3 linked regions of the Homo sapiens genome follow. The protein of the gene in region 2 interacts with the protein of the main gene of each other region in a pairwise test. Each region holds a gene or a part of one and is shown on either strand. Other genes may lie near its edges.

Evidence for each region.
Region 1: the proteins of MYO5B (region 2) and RAB8A interact in a two-hybrid assay, tested with the Homo sapiens proteins (one study listed by BioGRID).
Region 3: the proteins of MYO5B (region 2) and BNIP2 interact in binary tests that used the Homo sapiens proteins (3 or more experiments, as listed by UniProt).

The regions. Positions count from the first base shown.
Region 1 is NC_000019.10:16,125,389-16,129,039, forward strand, and holds part of RAB8A (ras-related protein Rab-8A), read left to right. Parts: exon of another isoform or gene 1-81; coding exon 82-159; exon of another isoform or gene 160-1,599; intron 1,600-2,048; coding exon 2,049-2,138; intron 2,139-2,637; coding exon 2,638-2,703; intron 2,704-3,651. UniProt on the Homo sapiens protein: The small GTPases Rab are key regulators of intracellular membrane trafficking, from the formation of transport vesicles to their fusion with membranes.
Region 2 is NC_000018.10:49,901,500-49,905,150, forward strand, and holds part of MYO5B (unconventional myosin-Vb), read right to left. Parts: intron 3,330-3,651; coding exon 3,173-3,329; intron 1,335-3,172; coding exon 1,095-1,334; intron 1-1,094. UniProt on the Homo sapiens protein: May be involved in vesicular trafficking via its association with the CART complex. The CART complex is necessary for efficient transferrin receptor recycling but not for EGFR degradation.
Region 3 is NC_000015.10:59,682,794-59,686,444, forward strand, and holds part of BNIP2 (BCL2/adenovirus E1B 19 kDa protein-interacting protein 2), read right to left. Parts: intron 1-3,651.

The sequences.
Region 1 (3,651 bases), on a different chromosome or scaffold from region 2:
CCACTGTTCTCTGGTGCCGCTGAGGCCTCCCTTCCAGAGCCTGCAGCCGATCAGGCACCTGTGTCTTCTCTCCCCGCGCAGGGCATCATGCTGGTCTACGACATCACCAACGAGAAGTCCTTCGACAACATCCGGAACTGGATTCGCAACATTGAGGAGGTGAGGCCCTCCGGCTCCTCCCACTGTCCCTGCTTCAGTCCTTGTCCCAGAGCCCTCTGGTTTACTCATGAGAAGGCCAAGGTGCAGAGACACATACAGGCCACTTGCCCACAGCCTCCTAGTCAGGGACATGGTGGGAGCAGGGACTGAGATGCAAGCAGCCGGCCCCAGGGACCACACACTGGCCTGGCCCCACCCCGGAGCCCCTCGGAGCCCATCCCTCCAGCTAGGCTGTTGGATCTGGCCAGTGTCATGGTTATAAGAGAAAGGATATCCAAGCTTGTGGTCACCATGAGTGTTGGGTGCTTTCTAGAGAAGGAAGGGTCTAGCACAGGTGTGACCCTTGTAGTTGGAGGGTGTGGTGAGCAGGCGTCAGTTGTACTTTGAGCTATATCGGAGCAGGGTGTGACCTGGTACAAACGACCTGTGTTCAGACCTTGAACCATAGAGCAGTGAGAAGTAGGCCAACCCCTCCTCCCCTCCCAAAGCCAGCATCTTCATCTTCTGCTCCCCAAAGAGCTGACCTCACCCCCAAAGCCTTCCTGGCTGCCGGCACCTGCAGCTTTCTATAACTAACCATGTGGGGCTTCAGGTCTGAGGCACAGCCAGAGAACTTTTCCCATCTATAAAACCACAGCAAAAGGGCATATCACTGTCCACCCAGGACTCATGGACCTCCCAGGCCAGGCCGAGAGGCCACCCCATCATTTGTGAGTCATTGCACTGGGCTCACCTCCCCAGTGACCCTGAGAGGGCTGTGCTGCCAAATTTGCCAGTGCAGGGCTGCACCCCAGCTGGGAAAGCTGTCTTCATCCGTGGAGAGGAGGAGAGCCTGGTCTTTGTGAAAGGTCTCTGTTTCTGGCCAGCGGGCAGGAGCCACCTTCTGGTTCATGGGAAGTGAGGCAGGGAGTGGCGCAGTAGGTTCCAGAGACCAAGTCTGAGCTGGTGGAAGAAGACAGCAGTTTCCAGTGTCCCCGTCCTCCAGGAAGCGTGGTCCGCTCCATGGGGACCCAGGGAGACTTGACGAAGGAGCTGCCTTTGGGTATGAGGGCAGAGTTTGGGCAACATCAGACAGGGTGGTGAAGTGCCTGCAGCTGGTGACGGCCTCGAGTTGCGACCACCTCAGGCACGGCCTGTTTCTGGAGCCCAAAAATAGTTGAAATGTCAGGGCCAGGCGAGGTGGCTTATGCCTGTAATCCCAGCAGTTTGGGAGGCTGAGGCGGGCAGATCACCTGAGGTCAGAAGTTTGAGACCAGCCTAGCCAACATGGCGAAACTCTGTCTCTACTAAAAATACAAAAAATTAGCCTGGTATGGTGGCAGATGCCTGTAATCTCAGCTATTCGGGAGGTTGAGGATCGCTTGAACCTGAAGGCAGAGGTTGCAGTGAGCCGAGATCATGCCACTACACTCCAGCCTGGGAGACAGAACGAGACTCCATCTCAAAAAAAAACAAAAAAAAAAGTGTCAAAGCAGAAGGTCCCAGGACAACAGCTGGGGCCTCTTGCAGAGGAGCCAGGGAGGGAAGGAGGAAAGCCAAGGTCGGGGGGTAAATATCTCAGCCTCACTCACCTCCCATAGGCTAGACCCGCCCAGCATCCCAGGTGCGGGGGCTTGATTGATACAGCCATAGAAGCTGCCAGAAAGCATTTCAGAAAATGTGCATTTGCTCAGAGTAGCAGCTAGAACCCTGGCCCCAGCCCTGGCATTGGCTGTGTGACATGGGGCCGGCTGCTTGGCCTCTCTGAGCTTCAGCTTGTCCCTTAGACCAGGCTGTACCTAGCAGTCCTGACCCCACCGCTCTGATTTCTGGGGACAGACTGTGTGTTGGCAGAGGCACCTGGCCTGTGTCATCCGGTCTGATCCCCCGTCTGTCCCCCTCCCTCTCAGCACGCCTCTGCAGACGTCGAAAAGATGATACTCGGGAACAAGTGTGATGTGAATGACAAGAGACAAGTTTCCAAGGAACGGGGAGAAAAGGTGGGCATGGTGGCACAAGGGGCAGAGGGCCTCGGGGTCTTGGGGTTCTTGTGCAGAGGCCTTCCCCTGTCCCTCCTCTGCCCCAGGGGCCTGAGACGAGTTGGTCACCCCAGTGGGGCACGTGCCATGGGATGACAGAAGCACACACCCAGCCGGGGCTTCTTGGGTGCACTCTGCGGGCATCTCATCAAAACCTACCATGGCCCCGCTCCAGACTTTCAAGACCACAGGAGCGGGGAACAGAGCCATAGTTTGATCCCAGCAGGTCCCCGCCACCCTCCCATCTCAGCTGCCATCCCCAGCAACTCCATGCCCTGTGAGGCCCTGTGGAGGGGCATTCACTATAGAATTGAGGGAGTGATCCAGGAAGTCACGCCCACAGCCCCAGCCCTGTTGCTGCTCCCTCTTGGCGCCGGCCCTGCCTTCAGCTCCTGTTTTAGGCAAGCTCAGATGCGCCCGGCGGCTGGTGTGCTCATGCGTGTGCCTCCCTCTCTCACAGCTGGCCCTCGACTATGGAATCAAGTTCATGGAGACCAGCGCGAAGGCCAACATCAATGTGGAAAATGTGAGTCCCGGGCCCTGCTGGGAGACATGGGGCCTGCAGGATCGGCCCCTTCAGGCTAAAGGGGGAGCTGGCGTCCTCCGAGGAGGTCCTGCCAGACGGACCAGCCTCGGGCTCAGGGCTGCCAGTCAGTCCTCTGAGGGACATTTCCTGGGCAGTGCCACGTGCCAAGCACAGGCAGCCCCTGGGAATGTGCCATCAGCAGGGACAGGCACCACAAAGGGCACCTAGGACGCATCTCACGGGCTCTTGGGCAGCCCTGGGGAATAGGCACGGTTTTACAGGTGAGGAAACTAAGGCTCAGAAAGACCCAGCTCTGTGTTTACCCTCTCAGCCACACCACTCACCCTGGAGAGGCCCCTGTCAAAAAAGCCCAGACATAGCAGGGAGCCCTGATGGGACCTGGGCCCATGCCACCCTCCCCTCTCCACGGGGCGACCCCAGCCCTGCGGCCGATCCTGTGATGTTTCCCCATCCTAGTCATGTTTCCAAGGCGGATCTTCCATATCACTCCCGACCTAAAGTCTCTATGCTGACGTGAAGACAAAGGCTAGACTCCTTGCCTGGCGTGGAAGGCCCTCCCTCACCGGCTACAGCTGGTGTTTGCCACCCAGGGCTCAGGCCTTGCCCTCCCCAGGCCACCTGGGCTGCTCCCTTCTCCAATACGTCACTGCATTTCCCTCCTGTGTGCCCCTTTTTCTGCCTGCCAGGTTCCCTTTTCTAGTCAGGGCCTGGCCCTGGGGGCCTCTCCCCAAGAACACCTTCAGTCTCCCCTGGGCCTTCCTCCGCACCCCAAGCCACTCTCCTCTCCAGAACCTCCCACATCATGGGGATGTATGTTGGGATCACGCCTCCCGCCATCTCTGTATGTCCCCTCCTCAAGGCTGTGACAGCAGCTCAACCCTTGGCTGTGCTGGGAGATGAACCTGCTCCCGCTCCCAGCCCTGCCAG
Region 2 (3,651 bases):
CTTAAAAATAAGAGTGCTAACCATTTTTCAAGTTTCTCCTACTGCATACCAGGCCCTGCATATGCATTAGACCATTTATTCTTCTTTCAGCCCTGTCAGCCCCATTTTATGGATAAGAAAAGAGGTTCAGAGTAGTCACATCAGCCACTCAACTTTTAAGCAGAAGAACTGAATTCTGATTTCCAAAGCAAACACTCTTTCCAAAAGAGGCAGACAGACAGATAGGCAGACAGAGAGACAGAAGGGCAAAGTGATGCAGAGCATGGGCTCTGGAGCCAGACAGCTGGGGTTCAAACCTCGGCCCTGCCACTGCCACCTGTGTGACTTTAGGATGCCATGTGCCCTTCCAGTGTCTTCAATTGTACAAAAAGGGGGATGGTAATACTTGCCGTAGGAGGGCCGCTATATTAGACAAGCTACTCCAGTCAAAGCGCCAGCCCCATACCCCACACAGCAAGCCCTCCATGCACACCAGCTGCTGCTGCATTACCCTATGTCACCCCTGCAAGGGCAAAACACCAGCACCTTGGGCTAGTGTGTCAGTTTCCTATTGCTGCTGCAACAAGTTACCACCAAGTTATGACTCAAGATAGCATAAATCATTATCTTACAGCTCTGGAGGTCAGGAGTCTGAAGGGGTTGGCACGGCTGCATTCTTTCTGGACGCTCTAGGGGAGAGTCCATGTCTTCGTCTTCTCTGGCTTCTCAAGGCTGCCTGCATCCCTCCCACCTCTGATTCTGTCATCACTTCTTCTCTGAACTTGATCCTCCAGCCTCCCTCTTAGGAGGACCCCTGTTATATCAAGCTCACCTGGCTCACCCAGGATACTCTTCCCATCCTACAGTTCTTAATTTAATTGCATCTGCAAAGTCCCTTTTGCCATATAAGGTAACACACTCACAGATCCCAGGGCTGAGGGTATCTTTAGGGGTCACTGATCTGCCTGCCACAGTTAGTATCTGCTGTGGTCTGAGGACGTCTGTGCTCCCTCGGGTCTTCGGCATGTGCAGTTCCTCAAGGAAGCTGTGGGCTCTCTCAAAATGCTCCAGTACCCAAGCCCCCGACACCCAGGTAGGGAGCTGCAGACACTGACCTGCTCATCGATCTTCCGCTGCAGCTGGACCACCTTGTTCTCCATGCCCACGTTGAGACGTTTCAGATGCTCTGCTGAGCGGGCCTCAATCCTGAGGGCCTTCAGCTCCCGCCTGGCCTTGAGCATCCGGAAGGCACACTGGATGACAATGGCTGCATCCCGCAGCCGCTGGAAGTGCCTGCGTGCCATCCAGCCCCGCACGTGCTTCTGGATGGTGGTGGCCTTGTGCTCCATGAGGACCTGGCGGGAAACAAGGATACACATCTTGTGGGTTTGCACTGCAGGACAGGAGTGAAGGAAGCATACATCACTGCCTGTGGAGGGAAGAGGCCAGGGCAGCCTTGGTTCTAGGAGTTACACAGACAATGTGCCCCCTAAGATCTAAGGCTTTGGTGGTTGTTTTATAACACATTTCAGCGAGGTTCTGCGCCTACATATCCACAGGGAATCAGCTGTCAAACTCTTTTCAGCTTTGTTTTACTTTTTGTTTTATGGGTTAGGAAACCACAGTCTGAAAACCTCAAGGTTGTAGGGGCCTAATGATCATCCACTTGCTCTCTACCCATTTACCAGGTGGAGGTCCCCTCCTGGTGGCACTGAGCTGGAAGTGAGATACTTCAGTGAGTGTCCACAGCAGGCTAATGGCTTATAATTACAAACTTGGTGTGTAATTCACTGTTTTTTTTTTTCTACCAAGTTAAAAAACCACTCAGGATATGAAAGCATCATCAGTGTGCTCGCCCTAATACCTGGTAAAATAAATGTTTGTGGAATAAATGAGTAAACAAGCAAACAGGCTGAGCAATGAACAGTGCCACAGCCATGAGTGACAGAGCTGGGAGCCACATCAGTGCTCACTCTTTGCACATGCTGCCCCTGCTGAGAAACTCCCAAACATCACCTGCCCCTTCCATGGGAGCAGCACACCAACGCCACCCATCACCCAAGAACACTCACAGAACCTTCTCCCAATGGCCTGGGTTTCTCTACATACTACACCAGGGTGTGCTCCACCCTGACCACATTTTTATTATTATCAATTTCGTGCTTTACTTTTATTATTTAGAAAATCACACCTTCTGTGATCATAGAAGAGACAGATGTTCATTTAATGAAAAAGAAAACCATTTTAGACATTTCCTTCCAATTCGTGTTTCAAGTCAGCTCTGTGCTTCAGATGTGTTGGTGTTACCTGGTTGAACAGATGTGTCCTGATGTGGGGCTCCTGAACCCAAGGGTTTTGGCTTCACTGGAACAACACAAAGAGCAAGAACCTGGCAGGGAAGAGGTCGGGGCCTCCCTCCTGACCTCACCATGTTGGGCTTCAAGCTCCTGATCCGTTAAGTGGAGGAGTTAGACCTGATGATGCCCAATACCACCGCCTGCCCTCAAGTGTGAATGAGCCCTAGGTGGGTCACCTGGCCCTGCTGTTGGCTGGCCTGGGCCCTCAGGCAGGTGACCTGGCTTCTCTGAGCAACTCAGGTATCAGAAGGGGTGTGAAAACTGCCATGATTGGATGCTGGGCCCCTTCAAAACTCATGTTGAAATCTGATCCCCTATGTTGGAGATGGAGTCTAACAGGAGATGTTTGAGTCATAGAGGCAGATCCCTCATGAACAAATAAATGCCCTTCTTCAAGGGTGATTTCTCACTGTTAGTTCTCATTAGAGCTGCTTGTTAAAAGAGCCACTCTTGTGCTTCCTCTCTCACCATGCGACCTCTGCACACACCGGCTTCCACCTCCCACCATGAGTGGAAGCAGCCTGAGGCCCTCTCCAGAAGCAGATGTTCAATTGTGAACTTTCTGGCCACCAGAATTGTGAGCCAAATAAACCTCTTTTCTTCATAAATCACCCAGCCTCAGATATTGTTATAGCAACATTTAATGGACTAAGACAACAGTATGCACACCCTTCCTACCTTGTGGGACTTCAGAAAGGATTTGGTGAGAGCAGAGATGTGAAAGCATTTAGAAAAAAGTTGGGAGTGCTTGACAGAGGTTCACGTTGGCAGTAATTCATCTGTTGCCACTTTAGTTCTGAATCTGCAGCCCTGAGGCCCTCAGAGTGGCTACTCACCTGGCGGTAGGTTCTCCGCACAAACATGGCCCGGGTGAAGGCCTGGATAACAACGGCAGCTCTGCGGACCCTCTGGTAGGCCTGGCGGGCCCTCTGCATGCGGTAATGTTTCTGGAGCACCACAGCCGCTCTGATCCTCCGCAGGTGCTCAGCCAGCCTGGGGAGCAAGAGGAAACAGGCAGTGTCAGGGAGAGAGTATTGACCGCCCTGATGCAGAGAACCCTGAGACATCTGCAAATGCAAACCTCTCCCTCTGTGGCCCTACCTGGACACACCCAGGGGAAACCAACTCTCTTCACCCCTAACAAATGTAGCAATGCCTTAGGCATTTGACGTTGTGGCTAGAAAAGCAGTGTTAGTTCTTTCCTTATGGTCTCGAAAGGCTTCCCACAAGCTTCAAACTCAGTCAGAGTCTGACTTCCTCTATGATCCTTATCTGAGCACTCTTCTACCTCACTGTGCCTGGGCAGTCCTCAACT
Region 3 (3,651 bases), on a different chromosome or scaffold from region 2:
AATATATTTCATACTATGGATTATATTAAAAAATTTGAAGTGGGGTAAGAAATAAAAATGTTCTTTATTACAGACTCATAATTAAATTTTCTGTCCCTTGGATAGAGGTTGATTCTAGACCGTAAATAATAGTAAATCAATAATATTTAAACTCATGATTCAGCAGAGTCAGGTGGTGTGCTGTCTTTCATATTTCCTTCTCAATAGTTTGATGCCACAATTCCTGAGCCACTTAAAGAAGTCTATTCAATAACTTGTCCCGTAAATGAATTATGCAATCTTTTGATTTGTTTCATATCTATACTATGCCCTTCTCATATAGCTCGGCATATGTTTTCAAACACTGAACTTGGTGAATGCCCTTTTATGCAACTACGTATTTTAACATATGCCATGAACTTTAGTTTTAGTTTTTCCAAGGAATCACGTGAGTCCAATATCCTCATTTTAAAAGTAAGAAATCTAGAGATACTCCCTCTGGTGATGGAGTAAGAAATAGAAGTTGAGGTAAGGTAAAGATCAACTGGTTAACAATGCAACAAAACAGTGAAAACTATAGAAGGAAAGAGGTATACACGAGTATTTAGTTCATTTACATTCAAGTCAATAGATGTCTAAAGTTATTCAACAAACAGCAGTAACATATTTCTGTTCTTTTCTTTTCTTTTTGCAGTAACATATTTAAGAGATACGGAGCATCACTAGCAGTACTAAAAATAAAGTTAAAAGTCGTTGACACTAGGCCGGGCGCGGTGGCTCACGCCTGTAATCCTAGCACTTTGGGAGGCCGAGGTGGGCGGATCACTTGAGGTCAGGAGTTCAAAACCAGCCTGGCCAACACGGTGAAACCCAGTCTCTACTAAAAATACAAAAACATTAGCCGGATGTGGTGGCAGGCGCCTGTAATCCCAGCTACTTGGGAGGCTGAGGCAGGAGAATCGCTTGAACCTGGGAGGTGGAGGTTGCAGCGAGCCGAGGTCACACCATTGCACTCCAGTCTGGGTGACAGAGCAAAACCAGTAGCAGAGGAAAGAGGGTGAAATGCAGAAAATGACTAATGCTTTTCATAGTAAGTCCGTCTATACCATTTGATTTTTAAAACAATACTATCTGTGACTTTAAAAGATATTTATTAAATAAAATCAATTATGTCAGCCATTCACATCAACCAGTCTTCTAAAAGAAAAATGTGGTCATGTCCTATAGCTATCTTATCTGCTACGTCAACATTCAAAAGATGCACAAAGTTACAAAGAAAAAAGCCTTATGTTCCGTAATGACAAAATTACAATGGAAATATCCTGAAGTGTTAGATTTCACAAGGTAAACTAAATTTGTATCTCTGCCAAGGCTGGAAGACTCTCTTCCCAGTTTGAATTTTTACTTACCCTCAAGAGAAGGTTTTAAACATTCCCAAAAGGTTTCAATGTTTGATGATACACTTGTTACCACAGAAAAAAAATGGTAGATGCTGACTTTTCCACACCAACTTATTTGCTTGAAAAAGTCATTTACATATAGGAGTAAGGTTTTTAATTCTCTGGGAAAACAATGATCTAGGCAGTTTTTATAAGTTAATGAAAAACATTTAAAATAATCTTTACTTATTTAGCACTTTCTCTGTTGGGAGGGAAAAATAAACAAAAAGAGGGACACCTACCTTACCAAACAATCCCCTCTGTTTAGAACAGAAATAGTAGAAAGGAGCCCACAATTACAATCAACAAGCCCAAATGGTGAAAATACTTACTACTCTAGAATTACAATGCTCAAGTGAGACCAAAGCATGCTATGACTAAAGGCTGAAAACTGGTAAGTCTTTTCTAGATGTTTAATTTACTGTATTTCCCAATGTTTAACTTTTCTTAAGTCTTTGGTACTCACTCTAAAGCGAATGATGTATTTTCCTAAATTCAATAATCAGAAAAGCTTTCTATTATCTTGTCGTACCTTTTTATTGTGTGTTGAAAAACACACCAGGATGTTGTCTGGGTGTCTTTTTCAAATATCTCAAATACTCAGAAAAATATTTAGCATTTCAAAAATAAAAGCAGAAACTGAAAGTTGTACCCAATATATTCCCAACACCTACCATGGTGCCTAGCACATAACAGGCCTATAAAAATTAAGTAAATAATACTTACCTGTAGGGTATGGACACTGGTCAGCAAACCTTTGCTCAATCTCTTAGGCTTATTTTGCTTATTAAACTACATGAATAGGATTTGTCATGTGTTACCCCATAAAAATGTAACAAAAATATTCTGTGGGAAACTACACACCAGCAATATTAATTTCTATTTGTAAAATTGTTCCTCACTGGTAAGAGGAAAGGTTTATCTTGGGAAATTCTAGAAGACAATCCATTCCTTTCAGCTGCTTAACCAATGGAACAAGTTTGTCTCTGTGAAAACAGCTCCTTGAGGCCGGACGTGGTGGCTCACACCTGTAATCCCAGCACTTTGGGAGGCTGAGGTGGGCGGATCACCTGAGGTCAGGAGTTTGAGACCAGCCTGACCAAGATGGTGATACCCCGTTTCCACAAAAAATACAAAAAATCAGCCAGGCGTGGTGGCGCCTGCCTGTAATCCCAGCTACTATGGAGGCTAAGGCAGGAGAATCGCTGGAACCCCAGAGGTGAAGGTTGCAGTGAGCTGAGATTGCACCACTGCACTACAGCCTGGGTGACAAAGGGAGACTCTGTCTCAAAAAACAAAACAAAACAAACAACAACAAAAACTAAATAGCTCCTCGAAACACAGGCAGCCCAAGTCTTTCAGCTATCTCAGCCTATTTATTCCATTTTTACCTTAATATCATATTGAATCATGTGTTAATACCTCAGCACATAGACATGGATATTTAGTTTGAGGATAATCAATTATCTAGTTAAACAGAACTTGGGGAGAGAGATATAGATAGATTTACTCTACCATTTCATCATGAATTTTAGGGGAAAAGTACACTAGGTAGATCAAAACAATTTAAACAATTGAGGGAGTACTGTTTCTTGGAAGCACTTTATCATCAAACAGCTGTTAAGAACAGGAAACAAACAAGAAAGGAGTTAATATAACCACAACCTCTTCGAAGAAAATCAGGATACTGCTGACTCACAAGTTAACTGTTGTTGCTTCCCATTTCTTGTTCATGTATTTTTTTTTGGAAATTAGAATGGGAAATAACACTTTAAGATGATATTTGTTAAAATAACCTGTTGGCACAGGAATAACTTGATTTCTCAATAGATTGACTCTTGGTAGTGGTGGCACATCCTTATGCCACTTACTTGTTGCAGTCATAAAGATAAATTCAAAACAGTTGTTGACCTTAGGTTAAAAATCAAAGAGATAATTGATTCCTTCTGACATAGCTTCAAGGGGGAGGAGTACTGGTAAATCCAACCAGGATGAAGCAGCTTTCCCCAGGCAGTTTAGCAACATAAGCAAAAATTAAATGTTAAGATCACATTTAGGCCAGGCTCAGTGGCTCACTCCTGTAATCCTAACACCTTTGGAGGACAAGGTGGGAAGATGGTTTAAGCCCAGAAGTTCAAGCCTAGCTTGGGCAACACAGTGAGATCTGTCTCTACAATTTTTTTTAAGATCGCATTAGAACTGTTTAGATTATAACACAATTTTACACAGTGAT